Regions from separate parts of the Homo sapiens genome. Here regions 1 and 2 are each linked to region 3. The links come from fine-mapping of genetic effects on gene expression. A gene starts in region 3. Each other region holds a variant in brackets. All regions are shown on one strand. Distances are between the middles of the regions.

The links. PIP is the estimated chance that this variant, and not a neighbour inherited with it, causes the effect.
Region 1: its variant is the best candidate, but not a certain one, in a credible set for the expression of NDUFAF8 in prefrontal cortex (GTEx, PIP 0.56).
Region 2: its variant is the best candidate, but not a certain one, in a credible set for the expression of NDUFAF8 in whole blood (INTERVAL, PIP 0.70).

What each region holds. Positions count from the first base shown.
Region 1 is chr17:81,301,948-81,308,406 of GRCh38, reverse strand. It overlaps LINC00482 (long intergenic non-protein coding RNA 482), which reads left to right. Exons shown (of 4, transcript NR_038080.1): 2 at 563-777; 3 at 2,590-2,741; 4 at 3,045-5,583. Among named protein-coding and RNA genes, the nearest start is that of LINC00482, 4.1 kb to the left of the region's middle. RefSeq lists a cis regulatory region at 5,770-5,968. The variant C/GC (reference allele first, on the strand shown) is at 3,188.
Region 2 is chr17:81,272,961-81,279,419 of GRCh38, reverse strand. SLC38A10 (solute carrier family 38 member 10) reads left to right here. Exons shown (of 16, transcript NM_001037984.3): 7 at 2,287-2,389; 8 at 3,269-3,451. Among named protein-coding and RNA genes, the nearest start is that of SLC38A10, 19 kb to the left of the region's middle. The variant G/A (reference allele first, on the strand shown) is at 3,103.
Region 3 is chr17:81,237,586-81,242,621 of GRCh38, reverse strand. It overlaps NDUFAF8 (NADH:ubiquinone oxidoreductase complex assembly factor 8), which reads right to left and starts at 3,304. Exons shown (of 3, transcript NM_001086521.2): 1 at 3,175-3,304; 2 at 2,944-3,054; 3 at 1,312-1,635. The coding sequence starts at 3,258. The coding sequence ends at 1,606. It overlaps TEPSIN (TEPSIN adaptor related protein complex 4 accessory protein), which reads left to right and starts at 3,567. Exons shown (of 13, transcript NM_001363764.2): 1 at 3,567-3,636. The coding sequence starts at 3,589. RefSeq lists silencers at 1-193, 3,078-3,227, 3,470-3,685, 3,788-3,877 and enhancers at 2,738-2,817, 3,198-3,417, 3,661-4,243.

The DNA of each region.
Region 1 (6,459 bases), 65 kb before region 3:
GGGTGGTGGGCAGGCAGCCGGGCTGGGGCGGCGCCCCCCCCATCTCCACGGTGTCCCCACCTCTACAGTGCCTCCCCCTCTCCATGGTGCCCCCCCACCACGGCCTCCATCCCTGGGGTCCAGGTTTCATTTGTTCCTCAGCAAATGCTACAGAGCTTTTGTAGGCCCACCAGCAGGAGTGGGGTTGCCAGGCAGTGAGCTAGGGGGTGCTGGGAGGGCCCGAGGGGAGGCAGGGCGCATCCTGCAGGGTGCCTGTGAGGACCTGGGCTGAGGGTGGGTTTGAGCAGAGGCTGACATGGTCTCACCCTCTGGCTGCTGGGTGGGAACAGACCATGGGGAGGCCAGGACGGAAGTGAGGAGAACATGACGATCCCGGAGAGAGATAACCCGGATCGTGGTGGAGACACAGGAAGTGGGGAGAAGTGGTCCAAGCTGTGGATATCTGAACATGGACTCAACAGAATTTCCCGATAGATTGGATGAGGGGTGTGACTGAAAGGGAGAAGTCAAGGATGGTTCCATAGCAACCGCAGGAGCTCCAGCCATTGCATCTGCATTCCAGGCAGCAGGAAGGAGAAAGGAGGGAAGGTAAAAGACTACTGAAAAGCTTTCAGCTGGGGCTGGGCATGGAGGCTCACACCTGTAATCCCAACACTTTGGGAAGCCGAGGCTGGTGGATCACTTGAGCCCAGGAGTCTGAGACCAGCCTGGCCAACATGGCAAAACCCTGTCGCTACAAAAAATACAAGAATTAGCCATGTGCACCTGTGGTCCCAGGTATGATCTCACCACTGTACCTCAGCCTGGGTGACAGAGTGAGACCCTGATTCAGAGAAGGGGGAGGGGAAGAGGAAGGGGAAGGGGAAGGGGGACGGAAGGGGGAAGGGAAGGGGAAGGAGAAAGGGAAAGTGAAGGGGGAGGGGAAGGAGAAAGGGAAGGGGAAGGGGAAGGGGGAGGGGGAGGGGAAGAGGAGTGGAAGGGGAAGGGGGAGAAGGGGAAGGGGAAGGGGGAAGAGAAAGGGAAGGAGGAGGGGGAGGGGGAGGGTCTTTTGGCAAGCCATGAAGTCGGCCCAGCCCTTCTGCTTATATTGCTCAGGTTGTAGTCACAGGACCATGCCCGGTGCTCGTGAGGATGGGGAGGTGATTGCTAGCTGGGAACTGCGCACTCAACAATGACAGGGAGATGCCTCTGGGTGGGGAAGGCAGTGCATGGACGCTGGTCAGCCGGCCACTCCAGGCAGTGGGAAGGTGCTCAGAGGCCCGAGGAGTCAACTCTGGTGGGCGCTGGCTGTGCAGCCGGTGCTGGTGGCCTGAACACGGCAGAGGGCCAGGCCGGGCCTCACTCAAAGGAAGCAGGGAGACAGGAGCGGGGCTGTGGGCTTCTCTCGAGAGCTGCCAGGCAGCCAGGCAGGCTGGGAATGACATTTGCCATGCTGTGCCCCCGGCTCTGGCACTGGGCGGCTCCTGAGGCCCAGGGAGGAGCGTGACCTGCCCACGGGTCCACCATCATCGAATGCGAGTCAGAGTCAGACCAATGCTGTGGCTCCAGGACAATGCCGTGTCCCCTCCTGGGGCTCAAAAAAGCATGACAGGGATTTGGGGGACAGGGGTGTTCACTTCTGCCCTCCAACAGGCTGAGGGGGAGGGTCTGGTTTCTCTGCTCACCTGTGCTGAGACGGTGCTGGGGAGAGGCAGGCGGGAGCCCCAGCCCCCTCCAAGTGTTTGCCAGCCCAGGCTCTGTCCTGTCCAGGCATGTCCTGTCCACCTGCCTCCCTCTAGGGACCGTGGGGGCAGGCCTGGAGCACTGAGCTCAGGGCCCCGAGCCGTCTAGAGGGACAGCTTCCTCACACCATGCACCTGGGCTGAGCTCAAGTCGCTGCAGCCCCTGACCCCCAACTCAGATATCCCTTTGCAGCCCACCTACTACCCAAGAAGCTGCTGTGTAGGGACAGAGCCCACCAGGGCACTGGGGACACGTGGCACAGGCCAGAGAGCTCCTGAGGCCTGGGAGGCTGCCATGTTGGGTCCCAGATGGACACACCCCAGTACGCCCAGTCTCAGGGCCTGAGCCACCCACTGGTTCTAGAATTCTCTCAGGAGAAGAGAGCCCCTCACGGCCCCCTTCATCACAGGCTGCGCGGCCTCAGCCTGGCCAGCCCCGAGACCCTTCTAGCTTGCGGATCCCCCTCCTGCTCCCCCGACCCTGACTCTCCCAGAGTGGACTGGCCAGGTCTGGGTCTGGTCTGCGGGCAGGAGCCCTGCCCAGGCGGCCCCCAGGGCCGGCCCTCCTCTCCCCGACTCCATGCACGTCTATAAACGCCCTGCACAACCCAGGGCCTTTGCCCGTGCATCCTCTGCCCGGGCGCCCTCTACACCATCTGCTGAACCCGGGTGTGCTCTCTGGGCCCCTCTGCAGGTGCCTCCTCTGCTCCTTTGGGAAAGCCCCACCTGTCTTGAGGTCCCCCACACCTGTGCTTCCCAGCACCTCGGAGACCCCAGAACCACTGAACAAAGAACACTGGGGTCCTGGGCTGCCACATGGAGGACCCCAGGGTGGCAGGCTCACAACAGCACAGGTGTCCTCCTACAGCTCCCAGGGCCGGGAGCCTGAAACCAAGGTGTCCACAGGGCCCTGCTGCCCCCAGAGGCTCTGGGCAGAGCCCTTCCGCCTTTCCAGCTCCCCCTGGTTCCCGTGCTCCTCGGCCTGTGGCCCCATCACTCTGGCCTCTGCCTTCATCTCATGTGAGTTTCTCCTCCTCTTCCATCCCTTATAAGGATGAGGGTCGTTGGGCTTAGGGCCCCCTGGGATGATCCGGGATGACCTCATCTCCAGATAACCTCTCCATGACAGCTGCAAAGACCCTTGCTCCAATTCTGAGATTCTGAGATTCTGGTTGGACATCACATATTGGAGGCCACCATTCCACCCACTACACAAAGAAACCCTCCCCTCCAGAACCCCTTTCCCTGTCCGACCAGCCCTTTGCAGCTTTCACACCCCCTGACAAATTTGGTTCTGTTCCCTTATTCTACCCCCTGCCCTAGGCCGAGATCCCTGAAGCGGGCCCAGCTCCGTTCACTGCTCCCCCGGCCTCCTGCTGTTTCCCACACGCAGCCATGGTACAGGGCAGCTCATCCCACCACCTCCCCAACCGCAGCCTCCAGGGATGTACACCCTGCCTCAGGGG[C/GC]TGTGCCTGGGCCCTGGCTGGTGGAGGGCACAGCCGTCAGGGAAGGCCCTCAGCTGCAGGATGCCGTGCCTCAGAGACCAACCAGGCCCTCGAAGGCACTGTGGCCGGCCCAGATGTCAGCAGCTCCAGCAATTAGGCTGGGACAGATGGTGCCTGGTGACACAAGGGGACTGTGGGGGCCACAGGGGACCCTGCTCACCTGGACCTACCGTGGAGGCCAGGGAGGGAGATGGACTCGAAGGGCGGAAGGGCCCAGAGAAGGCACATTTGCAGAGCAGCGGCCGCATTTCCAGAGCTCGGGAGCCCAACAGGAATCCCGTCTGGCCATGGGACCACCGCCCTTGGGGCTGGGGGATGCCGCAGGGGACGGCAGAGGGCAGACAGGCCAGGAAAAGGGGAGGGCAGAGGGCAGACAGGCCAGGAAGAGCGCCTGCAAGTGCCCAAGGAAGGGACCAAACCCAGGCCCCTGGACCAGAGCGGCCGCCTGGTGGGGCAGGCTGGAAGGGGCCAAGGCCAGCGCCAAGGGGGAGCAGGTGAGGGACCCTGGTGGGCATCTGTGGGAACAAGGCCACGTTTCTCCCTGCGCACGCTTTAATCAAGGACATTCCTGTGGTTCTCCAAAAGTGTCGCACACTACATGGGTGTCGTGAGCTGGGCTCCGTGAGAGTGTGCGGGTGGCTGGGGGCAGCAAGGGAGCAGCAAGGCCTCAAACCCGGGCGGCGGCCTGGCCTGCGCGCCAGGATGTGCGGTGTGAGTTTCCCGAGCTGCAGGAACAAGGTCCACAGACTGGGGAGCTTCACACAACAGAAACTGCCTCGCAGTTCCCGAGGCCAGAGCCCATCGGGGTGGCTCCCTGAGGCCGTGAGCCCGGACTGTCCTGGGCCGCCCCCTCTTCCACAGGCTGAGATCATCCTTGGCGTCTGTTGGCCTGCGGCCGCCTCGCCCAACCTCTGCCCTCATGTCCACACGGGTCCTCCCTGTGTGCATGTTGGTGTCTGGATCTGCCCTTTCTACTGTGGGGCAACTGTCGTCGAGGATAGGGCCCACCACACAACACGGCCTCATCGTAACTAAGTATAGTCAGCAGTGATCCTATTTCCCAATAAGGTCCCATTCTGAGGTCCTGGACTTCAACATGTGAATTTTGGGGGCCACAACTCTACCCTGGCATGCAGAGAGAGAAGGGGGGCGTGGAGTCCCCCTGGGGGGAAGTCCCTTGGGAAGTCACAGGCCCCCTTGGTGGGGCAATTGGGACGTGGGTGTGAGGGTCCTGGGTACAGGGAGCCTGCCTACCAAGGCTCTGCCGACAGCTATTTCTAAATTCCTCGTGGAAAATACCCTGTGGCCCTCCTCATCTGGAGCGAGCGACGGGCTGGAGGGTGTCTGAGCCAGGCTGGTGCCGGGGAGCAGATGTGGGTGGCCCAACCCAGCCCCTTGTTCTTGTTCCCCACCTCCCAGGAAAGGGGGAGGGTGGGCGGAGCCGGCCCTCCTGGGCTCTCTCCTTGGGTCCCGGAGCCACCTGGGGAGGGGAGGCTCAACCCCCTACCTTGGCCAGCTGGCTGCAGGTCTCTCAGGGCTGGCACAGAACAGCTGGGCTTTGCCAGGTGTCCCCCATCCTGATGCACGGCCCGGTGGTGCGGTCTCCAGGCCTCCCAGGATTCTCAGCTGCGCCGTCTCCCCAGTCCCCAAACCCCAGTGGTGGCCGCCAGGGGACTGGACCGTCAGTCTGTGGAGCTGGGGCTGCAGCTGGTGGTGTTTCCAACAAGGGTCTTTTGGCTGCCTGGCTCCAGGGAGAGGCCTCTGGAGGCAAGGGGTAACCTACCGGGAAAGCCTCAAAGGCACCCCCATCCCCGCCCCGCACAGACTCCACCGGCCCCCCATGGTTCCTCCAGGCCCTCTTCAGTCATGACAGGCAGTGCCTGGGTGCCCGGCCTGCTCAGCACACCCTGGGCCTCAGCCCCACCCAAGCCTTGGCCTAGCATGGGAGCCACCACGGGAACACACACACGGGCTGGAGGGTGTCTGAGCCAGGCTGGTGCCGGGGAGCAGATGCGTCAGATGGAGGAGAAAAGCCCTGGGGCAGCGGCTTCTGGAGCTCTGGCCAAGGATGGGCTCTGAGCACACCCCTGCCCGGCCCAGAGCACCAGGCCGGGGCAGGGTCAGGAACAGCTTGAAGCCCCCTGCAAAGTCTGTCCCTCCTCCTGGAGCCTCAGCTGCCCCTCCAACACAGCCCTCTGTGGGAGCCTAGATGGCCCCCGTGTGGCCATGAGACATGGGCGGGCGCTGGTGGATTCCTCTGTGTCAGGTGACATGGTGGCACCCCGGCCGCAGGCTGTGCCCCGGCTGTGGCGTTAAGAAGGGCTATGGATCTAAATAAAATCCAGTCTCTTTGCTGGACCTGTTGTCAGTTTTATGGCTCTGGGGTTATAGAAACACGGGGAAGAGACCCCCAGGAGGCAGGGTGGGCTGGACGAGAGGCCACCAGGTAGGGCCCTCCCCTCCCTCCATGGGATACCACCCTGGGTGATTCTAAAGGTGGGGAGTCCGCTGAGAAAGGGAGATGGGAACCAGAGTTCCTAGACAATTCGGCACCCGAGCCCAGGTGAACTTTTAACTCCTGCCTGCTGGGGTGGTGAAAGCCCAGGCCCCCCTGAGGCTCCCCCAGCTCCCCAAGCCCACTGGGGCCCCAATTTGGATTCCGAGGGGCCGTCCTGGCCTTTGCTCACGCCCCCAGCTTAGAAGTTGGAGACCCAGGTGGGAGAGCGTAGGACTGCCCAGTAAGCAGTGCTCAGGAGGGGGGCCAGTCCTCACTGGGGCCCCTACACAGGACCTCCCAGAAACTGCACGGCAGACACCAGGGTTAAACAGGCTTCCAGCCGGCGAGGTGGCTCATGCCTGTAATCCCAGCACTTTGGGAGGCCAAGGTGGGCAGATCACTTGAGGTGAGGAGTTCAAGACCAGCCCGGCCAACATGGTGAACCCCGTCTCTACTAAAAAACCCCACAAAATTAGCCGGGTGTGGTGGCTGGTGCCTGTGATCCCAGCTACTCGGGAGGCTGAGGCAGGAGAATTGCTTGAACCCGGAAGGCAGAGGTTGCAGTGAGCTGAGATCGTGCCATTGCACTCCAGCCTGGGACACACAGATAGAGACTCTATCTCAAAACAAACAAACAAACAAACAAACAAAAAACCACCCAAAAACCAAAACAAAAAAACCAGGCTTCGGCTGTCGAGGGCACCTGGGCCATGCGGCTCCGTGGGCCAAGCTCTGC
Region 2 (6,459 bases), 36 kb before region 3:
ATCTCTTCCCTCCCACAGCGTCACTGCACCAGAGTGCCTGTCCCTGTTGGGTGGCGGGCCGCGCCCCCTGCCTGTGTGATTGGCCTGGATGCCAGCTGGGGCCAGGTCTCCCTTGTGCCTTCACTATCTGGCCGTTTTTGGTAAATGCATACCTGGTTATGCAGAATGGTTGTCCTAGGCCCAGAGAAGCAGCCGGGCAGCACTGAGCCCAGGAGGCCCTGGAGGTCAGGGTCTATCTGGAGACCAGGGTCCCCATCCTCACAGTAGGGCAGAGGGGCACACACCCAAGAGCTGCATGTGGATGGCTCCATTTGACTCTGGTAGGCCCTGAGGCTCAGAGGCTGCCTTGCAAGGTGGGCGGGCCAGGGATGCTCCGTCTGGGGCCATGGGCCAGCGCTCAGCATGTCCCCCATCTGTGGAGCTCCTTTGCAGGTGGCCAGGAGGTTTTGTGGCTCCTACCTTGTTTCTTTCCAGGGATGATCCCGGGGGTCCCTGGGGTAGGTGGTCAGGATTGGAGAGGAGCCTGGGGCTTGGCCTTCCACCCTGGCCACCCCGTGTGCGTGGGACACCCCTTCCCACAGTGTCCGTGGCTTCCTTGGGGGTCACTCCCCACAGGGTGTATTGGGGGCTGGGGGTAAGCACGTGTCATGGGGCACCAACGCTGGTCCCCTCAAGCCAAGACTCCCTGGTGTGGACTCAGCTGTGGCGAGAGGACAGTTTAGCACTGGGAAGTTCATGCCGCAACATGGCCTTCTTCTGTAGCTGTGGGTCTAGGGCCGTGGAGACCTCTTGGGTGTTTCTCCTGATTCTCTGCCAGCCTCCTGGGGCTGTGTGCACAGGCGTTGGCCACTTAGCTCCCTTCTAGCCTGGGCCGAGGGGAAGGCTCATGTCCTGCGGGGTCCCCTGACTGCTGCTGATGGCACTCCATGCTGAGGGCGGCCTGATGGGATGGTGTGCTAGGACCTGGGCAACGGGACACCAGCAGCTGCTGGCAGGACCTTCTCACTTGTCAGTCTGCTGGGTTTTCTTTTTTTTGGAGATGGGGTCCTGCTGTGTCACCCAAGCTGGAGTGCAGTGATGCGATCACAGCTCACTGTAGCCTCGACCTCCCGGGCTCCAGTGATCCTCCTGCCTCGGCCTCCCAAAGTGCTGGTATTTGGGTGTCAGCCGCTGTGCCTGGCCTGGTTTGCTTTTTAATAAAGTCAGGATGTCCTGTGTTTTCTTTCACTTTCTTCAAGGCGGTTTGGGATTTGGCTCCGCTGGCCGCTGTGCTGGTGATGTCCTGTGTTTTCTTTCACTTTCTTCAAGGCGGTTTGGGATTTGGCTCCGCTGGCCGCTGTGCTGGTCCATTTACTGGCTGCTGGCTTTCTGCATCCCGCCCTCCCCCGGCCCACCTAGCTTCCTTTGTGCCCTTGAGCCCCTGCCCTGGGACAGCCATGGCCATGGCCACCTGGACACCCTAGGAGCACCCCCCTGGACTCCCACTCCAGAGTCCTCGTTCAGCCCCATGGCAGAGCAGCTCTCACCTGTGCTCTGGCGTGTGCCTGGCCCAACTCCCTTCTCCCCGGCTGCACACAGATGCTCCATGGCCCCAGCCTCTCCCTTGTCGTCTCGCCCACCCCTTTCCAGAGGCCCAGGTCCCTGTGCAGGTCCCTCGGATGCGTCTGCTGCCTGTGCAGGGCTGTCATGTCCTTGCCTGGCTGGTGGCTTGGGTCCCTCCCACCCCTAGCAGCACCACACTCCTGGCACCAGGCTGTGGGACCGAAGCCAGTTTTCTCATCACACAAGTGAGAGGCTGCAGTGGGGAATCGCGCCCCAGGCCGCCTCCTTGTCTGTGCCGACTCTGATCATGCCTGTGCGGAGGCGCCGAGATGGAGGCGCCGAGATGGGCCGGCCGCCCAGGCCAGGGTGTGTTTGTTTAACTTTCCCTCCTCTTGACAGCGATTCTCTGAGCAGCCTCCTCCGGCTGCTTGCCCTGTAAACTGGCTGCTTTGACTCTCAGCACCCGCTCCCTGGCGTGGAGCAGCAGCCTGTCGTTCTGTAGCCTTGGGGAATGTTCGCATGGTGCACGCTCTGGGGGGTGTCCTGAGTGGGGGCTGCTGCAACGCTCCTGTCCTCAGCAACACCAAGTCCTGGCCTCAGCGCTGGGACTTCCAGTGTGCAGAGAATGTTGCATGAAGGAAGGTCAGAGACTCTCACTGGGCTGCAGAGAGGTCCTAGAAGTGGAGCCGCTGGGGAGGGCGTGCCTCTCTCAGGTCCGCTGTGAAATGGCCTGTTTCTATACAGCCAGGTGCTGCCCACCTACGACAGCCTGGATGAGCCGTCAGTGAAAACCATGAGCTCCATATTTGCTTCCTCCCTTAATGTGGTCACCACCTTCTACGTCATGGTAAGAGCCTTGCCACGCCCTCTCCGCCCCTGTGTCATGCCAGCATGATGTGCCGTGGTGCCCCGTGGGACTGCCACAGGCATGGCCCTGGCCCTGTGTGCTGCTGGGTTTTTCTCTCTGTTCCCATCCCAGTGTCTGGAGGCTGCGCGGGGACCTGGGGCAGCTCCATCAGCTTCCATCATTCCAGGACCAGCCCTGTGAGCCTGGGTCCACCCTGGGCCAGGAAGCTCTCCTGACCTGAGGAGCTGGGCACCAGGGCTGCTCCCAGAACCCTTTATCCGAGCCACTCTTACTCTCTCTCCAAGACCTCTGTTAATTCTCTGTAGAAATGGGCATGTTCCGGCCGGGCGCCGTTGCTCACACCTGTAATCCCAGCACTTTGGGAGACCGAGGTGGGCAGATCATGAGGTCAGGAGTTCAAGACCAGCCTGGCCAACATGGTGAAACCCTGTCTCTACTAAAAATACAAAAATTAGCTGGGCATGGTGGCACGTGCATGTAAACCCGGCTACTCGGGAGGCTGAGGCAGGAGAATTGCTTGAACCAGGACCGGGGAGGCAGAGGTACGCCGAGGCCAAGATCGCACCACTGCACTCCAGCCTGGTCTACAGAGGGAGACCCCGTCTCAAAAAAAAAAAAAAAGAAAGAAAAAGAAAGAAATGGGCATGTTCTTACAGAAACTAGAGATTTTTAGAAGGAGGAGGCGAAATGGT[G/A]CCTTGCCCCTGGAAGGCCATCTCTTGCAGAAGCTTCATTATGAAGTGGATTGAAGGCCATTCTGGGGGGCAGGGCACAGGTCCCCCCCATGCCCTGCCCACTGTGACAGGTGCCACTCGGCTAGGATGTCTGTCTGCCACGTTGCCATTTCTTATTCTCCAACAGGTGGGGTTTTTCGGCTACGTCAGCTTCACCGAGGCCACGGCCGGCAACGTGCTCATGCACTTTCCCTCCAACCTGGTGACGGAGATGCTCCGTGTGGGCTTCATGATGTCAGTGGCTGTGGGCTTCCCCATGATGATCCTGCCATGCAGGCAGGCCCTGAGCACGCTGCTGTGTGAGCAGCAGGTAAGACCCTCGGGGCACTCTCCGGATCGTAATAGCACAGGTCAGGCTCGCTTCCCATAAGCCCCCAGCTGTCCCGAACCAGAGATATAGCAGGAAAGTGGGGATTTGCGTCAGAGGAGTCCCGGGAGGGCGGAAGTTGGGGGAGCCTAGAGGAACCAGATTGATGGGCAGGAGCTGATAATGGCCAGAGTCTGGAGATGGGCACATGGCGTTCACTGCACAGTTCTCTTTTTTTTTGAGACGGAGTTTCGCTCTGTCGCCCAGGCTGGAGTGCAGTGGCGCGATCTCGACTCACTGCAAGCTCCGCCTCCCGGGTTCACGCCATTCTCCTGCCTCAGCCTCCCGTGTAGCTGGGACTACAGGCGCGCGCCACCATGCCCGGCTAATTTTTGTATTTTTAGTAGAGATGGGGTTTCACCGTGTTAGCCAGGATGGTCTCGATCTCCTGACCTCGTGATCCGCCCGTCTCGGCCTCCCAAAGTGCTGGGATTACAGGCGTGAGCCACCGCGCCCGGCCCACTGCACAGTTCTCTTGACTTTTGTGTAACTTTGAAAAATTTTAACAATATAGCAGATTTTTGAACCATAAGAGAGGCTGAGTTTGATGTAGGCCATATTGGTGGTGCCTGTGGTCCCAGCTCCTCAGGAGGCTGAGGCGAGGTTGTGTGAGTCCAGGAGGTTGAGGCTGAGTGTGAATGCATCACTACACTCCAGCTGGGGCAACAGAGCAAGACCCTGTCTTTAAACACATTTTAAAAATAGGCTGGATATGGTGGCTCACACCTGTAATCCCAGCACTTTGGGAGGGCGAGGTGGGAGGATTGCTTAAGCCCAGGAGTTTGAAACTAGCCTGGGCAACATCACTTGACTCCATCTTTACAAAAAATTAACAAAAATTAGCCACGCATGGCAGCGCATGCCTGTAGTCCTAGTGACTCGGGAGGCTGAGGCAGGAGGATCACTTGAACCAAGAGTTCAAGGCTGCAGTGGGCCATGACCGCTCCACCATACTCCAGCCTGGGCTACAAAGTGAGACCCTGTGTCTAAAAGAGAAAGAAAAATAAAAAGTGAGGCTGGGTTTTTTCACTGTAACACATGTAGGCCAGGCAGCTACTTAGTTCTTTCTAAGAAACTTTCAGCTGTAGGAGTTGAAACCAGAGGGCTGTCCTGGTTCTCTCCTTGTGGCAGAGTGAACCATGAAAGGCCCGCTGCGCTGTCTTTCGCCCCGAGCGTGGGGCTGTCCTGGTTCTCTCCTTGCGGCAGAGTGAACCATGAAAGGCCCGCTGTGCTGTCTTGCGCTCCGAGCATGGGGGTGCAGACGCCACTCTGCAGTGCTGGAGGAGCCCTGCCCCGTCCAGGTTCCCCTCCTGCCTCCCCTTGGGAGCTCTGCCCGGTGGCCCATCCATCTTCTGTCCCGCAGCCTGAGATCTGTGAGCCTGGTATGTCCCTTCAGCTGGAACTCCTGGTGGCTAGAGGCACACGTTCCTCTTGAACTGTTTCAGCCAAGGCGGGTTGAGTGGTCTCAGAGAATCCAGGGGAGAGTCCAGCAGCCACATTGGGGGCGGTGGGTCTCCCTGGGCCTTGGGAACGATAGCATTGGCTCACTGTCCATGTGGCCAGGTGTGCGGTCACCACAGCCTCCTGCAGACTTCCACCAGCCACGTGCCTCTGGCTTCGCAGCAGAGGCCAAGCACCAAAGACTGGGTGCCTCCCCCACGTGCTGGTGCTCCTCTCTTCTGCGGAGTTCAGGCACCTGGGCACGGGTGAGGCAGGATCGAGGAGGCAAGGCCAGAGCCCGTCATATGGCCGTGGGGTCCCTCCGCGCATCTGGCCAGGCCAACTTTCAGTGTTTGATGTTTTGTACCTGAGCAGCATCTGTATTTCTGTACGTGACCCATTTTTATCTTGTTAAAAAATTGACAATGGCGTTAAATGTATTGTGACTCAAGTAGGAAAGCTTACGCAACCCCCTTCATCCCAAGGTGGACCTGGCTGTTTCCTCCGTCAGCGCCCGTGGCTGCTCCTTTCCCGGAGGTGCGGCTGCGGCCATGCCACCTGCTTTCTTGTCTTCGGCCCATGTGCCGTGAGCGTTTCTCCACGGTCCCTACAAGCCTGCAGGGGCTCTGCTTCCTTGCTTCTCCACCTGTTGCGGGGGCCTGGGTGCACTGCTCCTTCACCCTTGACCTCTCGTGGCTAACCATCTCACGACAGTCTTCGTGCTAAAGTCCCCTCTCCCCTTCTCTGGGTCTATGTCATAGGTAAAGTTCTAGGACCGGGACTCTTGTGTGATGGACCTAACCCCCCACCTCCATGGCCTGTATACAAATTACCGCCCTGAGGCCGATAGGAACTTCTGGCTCCGTCTTCCACAGTCCATCCTATGTAAAAGTCCATTCTGAAAATGGCATGCTTCAAAACTAGTTCTAGAAAGTTCTGCAGTTGTTTCCTAGCCCAGGGAGAGTCATCACGGCCAGTCCGTCCTGTGTGTTAACTTATTTGGTCCTTACCACGGCTGGATGAGGAGATGCTTCTGTTGACAGATGAGGAAACTGAGGCACCGAGAAGTCACTTGCCTAGGGACACACAGGTGGGGCTGGTGAGTGGCAGAGCAAGGATTTGAGCCAGGTGGTCTGGCTCCTGTGTCCTGTACTAGAGACCACAGCTGGGGGTCCTGGGGCAGGTGGCGTCTGAGGCCATCCGTCCTTGGCTCTGCCGCCTCCTCCGGAATGAATGGCCCTGGCATCCCGGTGCAGATCAGTAGAGTCCTGGCTGCACACTGGGGCCAAAACAGGCACTTGAAATTAGGGCCTCATCGTGCCCTTCTCTCTTCTTCTTCCTGGACTTTGAAATTGCTCACTGCTTGTTGCACATCTGCTGGAGATAACACGGCCATGTGTGCGTGTGTTTGGGGGGGTTCTGCCTGCACCCTGAAACCTGTGGGCCAGGAGAGTCCTGGGGCATTTGTCAGGAGCGGCGCTGTGCAGCCTGTGTTTTGCTCTCCATACTTC
Region 3 (5,036 bases):
GTCAATCGATGTGGTGCTGAAATCCAGTCACTCAGGGAGGAAGGGCAGAGCAAAGGTGGGAGGTTTGCAAGGAAATTTGGGGTGGCAGAAAAGAGGGTGTACCCCGGAGGCCTGAGAGCTGAGTTTGGAGGTGTGGGCCACGCTGGGCCACAGGAAGTGGCAGGTCTGTCACCACCTCACACACAGGGTGAAGGACAGCGAGGGGGAGTGCTGGCAAGACAGGTCTGTGGGTGGGATGGGAGGCTGGATTTGGAGGGAGAAGATGCAGGAAGCTCTGCCAATGAGCTGCCAGAGAACGGAGAGGGCGTGACAGGGCTAAGAAAAGGACGTCTGCACACTGAGGCTCGCTCATGGATGAGTGCTGGGCACAAGAAGGAGGAAGGCAGGGGTGGGGGGCAGCCGGCCCTGCACGCTGGGGAGGCGGGTCGGGTGGTTTGTGCCAGCGCAGGGCATCTGAGTCTGGCATGCACAGGGATGGACTGCGGTGGCTTGACCCCAGGAGTCTGGTCTGGATTTCCGTGGTTCCCAAGATGTGACACTATCCTGGCCCTTGGGACAAAATCCAGCACTCTGGCCTGGCTCCTGCAGACCCACCACCCAGATCAGACCCTTAGGGGAAACCAGGTTAATTCTGGGGCAGCATCTGGAGGAGGAAACATGGAGGAACAGACCTCAGCCCACGGGGTCAGCCGCTAGCACGGGCCTGGGGGCAGGCGCAGGCTGCAGCCCCAGGAAAGTGCAGCCTCTGCACCCCGGAGCAGGGGGGCTCTCAAAGCAGTCCCCGCCACGCCCTGCAGGTGGCGCTCAGGCCCCATGGACTCCGGGGTCTCACCATCAACAAGTGCCCGGGCAGAGTCAGGATGTGGCCCTTCTCACCTTAGTTTTAGGTCAAGTGATGTGATAGGGAGGGGGAACGAGAGGGCAGGCGCCATCGGTGAAGTACCTGGGCTGCCGAGGGGGCGACCAACCCCACACAGGAGGGGCACTGGCTGCTGGTGCTCTACGCAGGCCCCTCTCGGAGACTCAGGCCCTTTTGTGAAGAGCCTCCGCCCTGCCCCGTGTCCAGGAAAGCCACCTGCGAGGACCCTGCCCCATGGAGTGTCCCCTCGTGGTGCTGACGTCCTTGTCTTTGGTGTGTGCTGTATACCCACAGCAAGGTCTGCAGGCTTCACCAGATTCACATTAAATACCTTAGTGAGAGTGTTTTAAAACGGGGACCTTGAGGCAGGGTGTCCCCAAGTCCCAGCCCTGCCAGCTTTGGGGGAAAGGCTCTGGGCCCCATTCCATCTCAGAGAGGCCAAGACCCACATGTTGCAGTCTGCACACAGTAAGCCCCAGGCTGCAGGATTTGACCGAGTCTTTATCGTGGCTTCCGTTACATCTTATTCTAACTCAGGTTTACGGACACAATGCTGGAAAACCAATTCCTGCTCTACCCACGCCTCAACTTGTTAAGAAAAAACAGGATCTAACACCGAGGAATGTCACATCTTCGCCATTCCCACTTCCTTTCTGCCCTAGGCATTCGATATGTGCCACCAGGGGCCATCAGGACTAGGGCTCTGCACCCATGGCAGCAGACAGGTGTGAAGCTCAGAGTCCCTCCTAACAGCCTCCCTCCAGCGTCTTCTTGGCCTGCAAGATAAAGTGTTTTGTCTGAATGGCTTGCTTCCAAGTTAGATACGCCTCAAAAGCAAGCTACCACACCACACGTTGTGTTCTACCAAATACCTTACAGAGAACTTGGGTGCTGGCATATGGTGGGGGCTCGACTGGTTGGAGCCTGGGGCCCCATGGGCAGGTTCTCTGGGTCACTTGTCCACGGGACAAGGGCCTCATGACACTATCACAGAACTCACTGCTGCCCCCTCCTCTGAGCCCCCACGAGATGCCACATTTGGTCTCAAGCTCTCATAGAGGGAAAGCAGGAGCCCCCCCCCTTTTTTTTTTTTTGAGATGCAGTCTCACTTTGTTGCCTAGGCTGGAGTACAGCAGCGTGATCTCGGCTCACTGCAACCTCCACCTCCCAGGTTCAAGTGATCTTCCCACCTCAGCCTCCCAAGTAACTGGGACTACACCACCATGCCTGGCTAATTTTTTTTTTCTTTTTTTTTGTAGAGACGGGGTCTCCATATGTTGCCCAGGCTGGTCTCAAACTTCTAGGCCTAAGCAATCCACCCACCTCAGCCTCCCAAAGCGGTAGGATTACAGGCACGCGCCACCACACCCAGCAAAAAGTGCAACTTCTGATGAGTTGTCCACCCCTGGATCCAAGGCTGCTGGGGCCGGGTAGGGATGAAGGCCGTGGAACTCTTGTTCAAATACCCTTTCTCTGGTCCAAATCTCCGGATTAACAGCTCCCAGTAAACAGAGTCAGCACTGGCATCAAGGCCTACCCAGATACACTGAGGTGGTACCCGGTGCGGCTGACACTTAGGGAACCAGCCTCAGAATGACTTAAAGCCCCACGGGCAAGAAGCCCTATCGTGCCAGTTGTGAGGGTGGCTGGGGGTTCCCCGCAGGACACGTGCTGAAGGAATCCACCACTGCAGGTGCACAGGGGCTGCAAGTGCCAGGGAGGTGAAGACCCGGAAGGTGCTGGGCACTTTCCGGGAGTCCTGTGTTGGGTCAATCCTGGCATGACACCCCCCGGCGGCAGTGCTAACACGAAAGCTTACGCGTTTTACAAGGCGCTTTTTTGCACACATCTCCCATCCTTTCTGAGGTTGGTGCCAGTCCCGCTTTACAAACATGCAGGGACAAGCCCAGGACGGCCGAGGTTTCGCGGGCTCGTCGATGGCTCGGTGATTTTGTCAGCCGGCGTCTAAAGCACGCGGCAGGCGCTCAAACCTTGAACCAACGGGAAAGCAAAGGAAAGCCGGGGCCCGCTGGCTCTTGGAGGGGAAGGGCTGGGAAGGGGGGAAGGGGCCCGCGCCCACCTACCGCAGCGGCGAAGCAGCTCCGCAGGGCCTCGAACTCCCGCGCGCAGAAGTCCTTACTCAGGCGGCCGCCCGGGGCCGTGGAGGCCTGCACGCACCTGCCGTACGCCGCGGCCTGCGGAAAGGACGGGCGTGGGTCGTGGGGTCCCCTGACCCCGTCACCGTCCTCCCTCCCAGCCACCTCCCCGCGCGGCTCCTCCTGCCCCGCAGCACTGGCCCGCCCGCGGCTCCTCACCTCGGCCCCGCAGGCGGCCAGCCGCTCGGGGAAGGCGCGGAGGCGGCTTCGCACGCGGCCCCACACCGCTCCGTTAGCCGACATGAGCGGCTATTCCCAGCCCCCTGGAGGCCGCCATCTTAGGTCCGTCCTCTTCCGGTGTCAAACAGCTTGATAGGTCGGCGCTTCCGCCCATAACCTTTCCTGAACTTCTTAATTGGCCAGGCTTTGCCTGGCCTCGAGCCCCCGCAATTGGCTCTTGTCCTAGTCTGTCTGTGCTCTGGGACTTCGGATTGGCCTAGGCTCCAATTGTTTACGAAGCCAACCTCAGGGCCCGCCCTACCGTGAGGGATTGGCCGGCGGACCCAGACCCGCGCAGTGATTGGAGGGCCCGGGCCTGGCGGAAGCGGGGCAGACCGGGAGGGGACCTGGATCATGGCTGCCGCGCCGCCGCTACGGGACCGCCTGAGCTTTCTACACCGGGTGAGTGAGGGCGGTCCGCCCGGGCCCCGGTCCCACGGCTCCTCTCGAGCGCCGCATTCCCCGGACTCGCCCCGGGCCGGAGCCATTGACCTTGCGTCTCCGCGCCGGGTAGCTGCTCCTGGCCCCTTCGCCCGCGCCGACGCCCCTGAGCTGCCCGCCCGCCGCGCCGTCCCGGGGCCTTCCAAGCCGGGCCTTCCAAGCCGGACCCGCCGAGCGCAAGGGCGATGGGCACAGCCAGACCCTGGGGGAACGAACAGGCCTCGGCCAGCATTCAGTGGCCTCCGACGGGAGGGAAGGAGCGGCGGACCCGGTGGACGTGGAGCCGCTGTGTCCGTGCTGCTGGCGCCCAGGTGGGCTGGCAGCCCGCCGTCCTCCCTGACGGTGGCGTTTCAGAGGACTCCGGTCCTGGAGAGGCACCCCTGGGTTGCAGAGAACACAGACGTCTCGAAGGGACAGAGAAGGACGCACCATTGTAAGCCCCTCTTAGTAAACCCTCTGAGAAGTAGAGGCCGGGGCGAGTTCCCAGGTGTCGTCCTGAGCAAACTGCCCTCTTTTGTCAGCCCTGAGCTTTCCTGGGCTGGACCTCAGAGGGGGCTGGGTGGTCCCAGGGCGCGACCTTGGGCTGCCAGAAGCCACGCTAGGGTTGGTCAAGGCTCTCAGTGCAAGGTTTCGACATAGTCGTTCTGTGCTGCGTTCTGCAGTTGTCAGCTGTCACCTGCAAACCTCAGCAGCTCCCCTTAGGGCGTGGTGGGCAAACAGTGTCAGTGATGCGTGTCCACAGCCTCGGGAAACACTTCAGGTCCACGTTTTCGTATGTTGTCACTAGATCTCGGCCCTTCCGACCGAAAGGCTTCGGCACCTCACGCGGTGGGTCCCATGCTTGTCCTGTTAAATACTCTTGAACTCTATTCTGTCCTGATACTGAATAATGCAAGAATGGGTGGTTCCAGTTTTCATCCCTATAAACCGTACATCTTTGTGCCAGTAAGTAAGCATGAAACAAATAAGTACGTCTGCGCTAAGCGAACGTAAAACACACGACATCAGTCGGTTCTCGGGGAGCGATGGAGCTAGTCACGCTGAGCGGCTGTCACTCTGCCATTCCGGCCTCTGGGGAGGTGGAACGATTCATAGTCCCCTGTGTGGAAAAGGGGCTTGCCTGGGCCTTGTTTGGCTTTGCTAGTCAGTAGGTAGGTACAGGAGAGGTACCTTCAAATAGCCTTACATGCTGGTAAGTGCAGGGAGGCTGGGGGCTGTGTCCCTTCTTAACCCAAGTGGCGCAGCTCCTCCGTGGAGAACCACCATTGATTTGCCTCTTCTCCGAGGCTGTTCATCCCTGACTGTTGAGAGAGGACCCTGCTGCAGCCTCCCTGTGGCCAGTAGCACAGTTCTCATCCCTT